2 separate regions of the Homo sapiens genome follow, and region 2 is linked to region 1. Evidence: fine-mapped expression QTL. A gene starts in region 1. The other region holds a variant in brackets. All regions are shown on one strand. Distances are between the middles of the regions.

The links.
Region 2: its variant is fine-mapped to the expression of CD4 in cerebellum (GTEx, PIP above 0.99).

Annotation. Positions count from the first base shown.
Region 1 is chr12:6,787,804-6,790,704 of GRCh38, forward strand. CD4 (CD4 molecule) reads left to right here and starts at 1,725. Exons shown (of 10, transcript NM_000616.5): 1 at 1,725-1,859. RefSeq lists enhancers at 1,209-1,766, 1,582-1,631.
Region 2 is chr12:6,820,678-6,823,578 of GRCh38, forward strand. It overlaps GPR162 (G protein-coupled receptor 162), which reads left to right and starts at 1,144. Exons shown (of 5, transcript NM_019858.2): 1 at 1,144-1,223; 2 at 2,791-2,901. CD4 (CD4 molecule) reads left to right here. Exons shown (of 10, transcript NM_000616.5): 10 at 1-122. RefSeq lists an enhancer at 155-1,127. The variant C/CG (reference allele first, on the strand shown) is at 1,157.

The DNA of each region.
Region 1 (2,901 bases):
TCCCAGCTACTCGGGAGGCTGAGGCAGGAGAATGGCTTGAATCCAGGAGGCGGAGGTTGTAGTAAGCCGAAATCATGCTGCTGCACTTCAGCCTGGATGACAAAGCAAGACTCTGTCTCAAAAAAAAAAAAAAAAAAAAGAGAGATCAAGACCATCCTGGGCAACATGGTGAAACCCCATCTCTACTAAAGATACAAAAATTAGCTGGGCATTGTGGCGCATGCCTGTAGCCCCAGCTACTTGGGAGGCTGAGGCAGGAGAATTGCTTGAACCCGGGAGGCAGAGGTTGCAGTGAGCCAAGATCACGCCACTGCACTCTAGCCTGGGCAACAGAGTGAGACTCCCTCTCAAAAAAAAAAAAAAAAAAAAATATATATATATATATATATAGAATGCCTTTAATGAAGCAGTAAATACTAATTTTATTAAATCTCAACCCTTGAGTACGGTGTGTCATGAAATGAGAAGTAGCACACAGTACTATATGCTACAGATGAAGTACAATGCTGTCAAATAGGGGTACTTGTGTTAATTGTTGGAGTCGCAAGCTGAACTAGAGTTTTCTTTTCTTTTCTTTTCTTTTCTTCTTTTCAAGACAGGTTCTCACTCTGTCACTCAGGCTAGAGTGCAGTGGTGCAATCACGGTTCACTGCAGCCTCAACTTCCTGGGCTCAAGCGATCCCCCCACCTCGGCCTCCTAAAATGCTGGGATTATAGGCATGAGCCACCACTCCCAGCCCCACTTTTTTCAGACTGGAAAACGCACACTCACATGTGCATCTTTAAATGATCACTTGGGCTGTGGTATGGAGAATGGCGACCAGTGAGGAGGCAGGAGCTGTTGTCCGAGCAAGGGATGATATTGGCATCTTGGATTGGCATGGTGGCAGTAGTGGTAGTGCAGAGTGACTTGGGTAGATTTTGGAGCCATTTAGAAGGTAACATCCACAGGAACTGGTAAATAAATACGTGGGAGAAGTTGGGTGAAGGGGGTGTCAAAGATTACACCCAATTTATTTTGCTTGGGCAAGTTGGTGGATGGTGAGCCCCTCACTGAGTGAGAAGCCTGGAGAAGCAGGTTTGGAGGGTGGTAGTATGCAGGTGGTATGCATAGTTGGGGATGTGTGTTGAGTTTGCTATGTCCGGTGAGCTTCCCAGTGGAGATGTCCAATGGGCAGACGGATACTCACATAGAGAGTTCATGGTAGATTCGGGCTAGAGGAAAGCACCTGAGGCCTGGCCAGAGACGCCTAGAGGAACAGAGCCTGGTTAACAGTCACTCCTGGTGTCTCAGATATTCTCTGCTCAGCCCACGCCCTCTCTTCCACACTGGGCCACCTATAAAGCCTCCACAGATACCCCTGGGGCACCCACTGGACACATGCCCTCAGGGCCCCAGAGCAAGGAGCTGTTTGTGGGCTTACCACTGCTGTTCCCATATGCCCCCAACTGCCTCCCACTTCTTTCCCCACAGCCTGGTCAGACATGGCGCTACCACTAATGGAATCTTTCTTGCCATCTTTTTCTTGCCGCTTAACAGTGGCAGTGACAGTTTGACTCCTGATTTAAGCCTGATTCTGCTTAACTTTTTCCCTTGACTTTGGCATTTTCACTTTGACATGTTCCCTGAGAGCCTGGGGGGTGGGGAACCCAGCTCCAGCTGGTGACGTTTGGGGCCGGCCCAGGCCTAGGGTGTGGAGGAGCCTTGCCATCGGGCTTCCTGTCTCTCTTCATTTAAGCACGACTCTGCAGAAGGAACAAAGCACCCTCCCCACTGGGCTCCTGGTTGCAGAGCTCCAAGTCCTCACACAGATACGCCTGTTTGAGAAGCAGCGGGCAAGAAAGACGCAAGCCCAGAGGTAAGGTGGTCAGACTCGGCTTCCTTCCCCGGAGCTGAGAGGGAGGGGAACGTGGGGCAGATGCACAGGAATGTGCTCTGCCCAGTTGTCTGCCCACAGCTCTGGCCACCTTCTCTTGCATTTCTCTTGGAACTGGTCATGAGCAGCGATTTCCCACTGGAACTGTGAGCTTCCAGAGGTCAGAGACTGTGCTAGACTCCTCTCTGCAGCCCCAGCGTGCACAGCTCAGTGTCCAGAGCAATGGGTGCTCCTTAGAGGAGTAGTGACCTAAATAGCAAGATCAGAGAGGGAGTGAAGACTGGAGACTATCCCAGGCTGGGAAAGGCGTGGAAGGCAACTAGTCGTGGGCAGTTGAGGGGAGAAGACTGGAAGAGGGGAAAAGAGGAGAAAAAGAGTGAAGAAGGGGAGGGAAAAAATTAGAAAGAATAAATAAATATAAGGTGGGAGGAAACCTATAAAAAAGAAATGATGAGGAAAAACATAAAAACAAGAAAAAGAGCAAAAGAAGTGGAATCTAGTCTAGAGAAAATTCTTGCAAAACCAATTTTCCTTAACGGGACAATCTCCAAAAATTGACACCAAATATCATACTTGCAGCATTTCATAAGTCGCATGATCTATGTAATAGTCTCTTTTAACTACCTTTTGTGTTTCTGTGTGTATTTTTAAATTTTTGTCTGCTTCTTTGCTCTTTTAAGATTTTTGAACAATGTCTAAAGGCACTTCTACTCTAGTTAGCTTTAAAATGATTCATGAAATAGGAAAGCTAAAATTCTCAGAAAGTGTTGAAACTGAGCTTTTGCGTATGAATTGCCCTAAAAGTTGCAGATACATATCTTTAGATAAATATGTCATTTAAGAAACGGATTCGAAAAGAATTGGTGGTAGGGGTCTCATGAGGCCGGGAGAGTTACAGAAGGATGTGCAGCCCCTCCTGGGCCTGGCAGGGTGTGAGGGAGAGTGAGGACTCACTGTCCCTCCTGAAGGGAAGCCCTGTGCCATCTCAGCCTTTCCGCCCTCAGACCTTTCCAGCCCCTGAGAC
Region 2 (2,901 bases), 33 kb after region 1:
AGCCTGCCTCTTCCAGGAAGACCCCCCTATTGCTGCTGGGGCTCCCCATTTGCTTACTTTGCATTTGTGCCCACTCTCCACCCCTGCTCCCCTGAGCTGAAATAAAAATACAATAAACTTACTATAAAGATGCTCTTCGTGTGTGTGTGTGTGTGTGTGTGTGTGTGTGTGTGTGTGTGAGAGAGAGAGAGAGAGAGAGACCCCTTCTCTGGGGACCAGGAATCTTCTGGTCTTTGGGGTCGGACCCAGAGGAGAGGTTGCTGGGCGTGCCCCAGGAAGGAGATGAAGTTTCCCTGGAGAGGGAAAAATTCTGTGGAGGCTGGCTACCCACCTCCACAACCCACAGGGCTCTGTGTGGGCCTGTGTGTGTGTGAGGCTGAGACTCTGTAATTACATGTGTGTGATATACCGTGGGGGAGAGACTCAGGGTTGTGTGAGCTCTCCTGGTGTATGTGTGTGGCAGAGAAAAAGGACTATGAGAAACTGTAACATGTGTGTGCAAATTGTATCCCCAACATATGTGTTTGTGTTCCAGGAGGAGGAGGCAGAGTGTGTGTGTCTGTGTGCATGCATGCGCCCACATCCTTTTAGCTTGTGCACAACCACCCCCAACTCCACAAGCAGCCCCAGTGTGCACCACAAGCCCCCTCACTCCCAAACCCAAGGCCCAGCCCTCACACAGATACACACAGTGACACACGCTTCCTCCTCCCCGAACAGCTAGCTCCTCAGTCCCCAACAACACCAGCTGCCTCTTGGAGCTTGTGTTCGTGTTGAAAACGGGAAGGGGTGGGGGCAGGACATGAACCATTTCACCAATGAAGCCGGTTCCCAGCCATCCTCCTCACCGCCCTCCCTCTCAGCGCCTTCCTTGCCCCTCCTCCCCGAGTCACCACCGTCCAGTTCCCCACCCTGCACTCGTTTCCCGCCCCCCCCCGCCCCCCACAAAGCTGTCCTGCCTTCCCTCTGGCCTGGGCTCACTGGCAGGACGACCCCGGGAGAGAGGGTCCTGGAGAGTGAGAGGGGCAGAGACCGAGTGAGCCGTGGGCTGAGCCTGGGAGGCCGGGACTGAGGGGGAGGAGGGAGGCCCGGGGGAAGGGAGGGAGGGAGAGAGGGAAGGAGGGAGGAGGGCGGGCGAGCTGGAGCCGGCAGGCAG[C/CG]GGGAGCCCGAGAGAGCCGCGTCGGGAGTGCGGTCTCCATGGCAGTGCTGGGCGCAGCCGGAGAGAGGTAAGACGACCCCTGCCTGCCCCGTCCCCTGTGTTGCCTCCCTTTCCCCCTCAAGCTGCCTCCTCTCCCCTAGGCCGGCCCCTCCTCCCCAGCCACCTGCTGTTTCTGCCCTGGAGAACCTGGAGGGGGACAGGAGGGAGGAGCCGCCTGACCTTACCCCTTCACCCCAAAGGGCGAGGGACCCCGTCGGCCAGGGAACCTCCCAGATCCCCCTTCCCACCTTCCTCTGATCTCTCCCTGTCCTTCACCTCCCTCTCTCTGTCCTTCACATCTTTCCTGCCTCCTTCCCTCTCTGACTCCCTATCTCTTTCATCCTGAGCCCACCAGCTGGGCCTGGGTGGAGGTGGGTGGGAAGGGGTCCAGGGCTGTAGGAGAGGACACTGGGGGCTGCTCTTGGCCAAGTCCCTCCACCTCCCTCTGGCTGGCCATTGCCATGGCAACTAGGGTGTACTGGGCTCCGGAGGGAAGCCAAGGGTGGGGGTGGACCAGGACCTCTTGGGGAAAGCAAGGGTCTGAGCTGCTTCCATGGGAAACAGACCCTTTCACTGCTGTGCCCCATTTTTACCCCACTTACCCTAAAGCCATTATGTGCTTCCTTACAGCCCCACTCTGTTCAGGGTTTCACCCGATTCCCTTACCCCCCTTCCCAGGGCTCACTGAAGCTCAGCATCACGCACTAAAACTGGGACCATCCTTCCTCCCATGAGAGGGAAACTGAGGCTCTGGGCCAGGGAGGAAGAGTCAAGGTCTCCCCACGGGGAGTCAGCACCTTATTGAACATTTGGCTTTTCTTCTCAGCCTCCTATTCCCTGCTCCCTCCCTCCCTCCCTCCTCCAGTCCCTCCTCCCTCCAAAGCCTCCTCTCCAGGGGGTTTGAGCTTTTCCTGCTATTTTCAGATACTACCACTTTGCCCCCTCTTTCTCTTCTGCTCAAACTCTCCTCCTTCTCCCTAGTTCCCCCTCTTTCCATTTCTGGATGCTTCTGATGTCAGCGGTTTCCCCGCCTTCAGGTTCCCTAGCACCCCCTTCGGTCCCAGACTCCTTTCTCCCATTTTCCCAGATATGGGTAGCTGGAGGGTGATCACCCAGGTTTGGGGAAGTAGGGGCTAAGCACCAAGACCCCTGCATCCAGGAGACCGGCAGGTAGGGGAGGAAGGCTGTGATGCCATATCCCAGTTCACTGTGAACCCTCAAGAGGAAACCAGTCTTGTGTCTCCCATCAGTAGTTCTGAAGAGACATTTAGGGACTTGAAGATAGGGGTGGAGTAGTGCTGAGCAGGGGATGTTCTAAGAAGGAACCTGGGAGTTCCAGCGGGAGGAGGAAGGGCTAAAGGAGACAGGGAGGTGGGAATACCTTCTTCCCTAGAGGTCTGGAAGAGTGCGGCTCTCATCTGTGTGGGGTGTTTAGCTGTCAGAGTTAAGGCAAAGGAATGTTCTGAATGACCCTCAGGGCCTTAGTAATCAGTCATGCCTATAGTTTCAAGAAAGGGGGCACAGGAGGCTGATTGGAGACCAGCCCAGGCCCTACCTTTGCCCTCTCCCTCCCACATCTCATCTTTCCCTTGCAGCCTGTCCAGGGGGCTGAGCCCCACCCCCAAATCCCTGGGGCATCCAGAAGATTCCTGACTGGTCAAGAACCAGAGGCAAAAGAGACCTGGAAGTCCCAGCATGGGGACCAG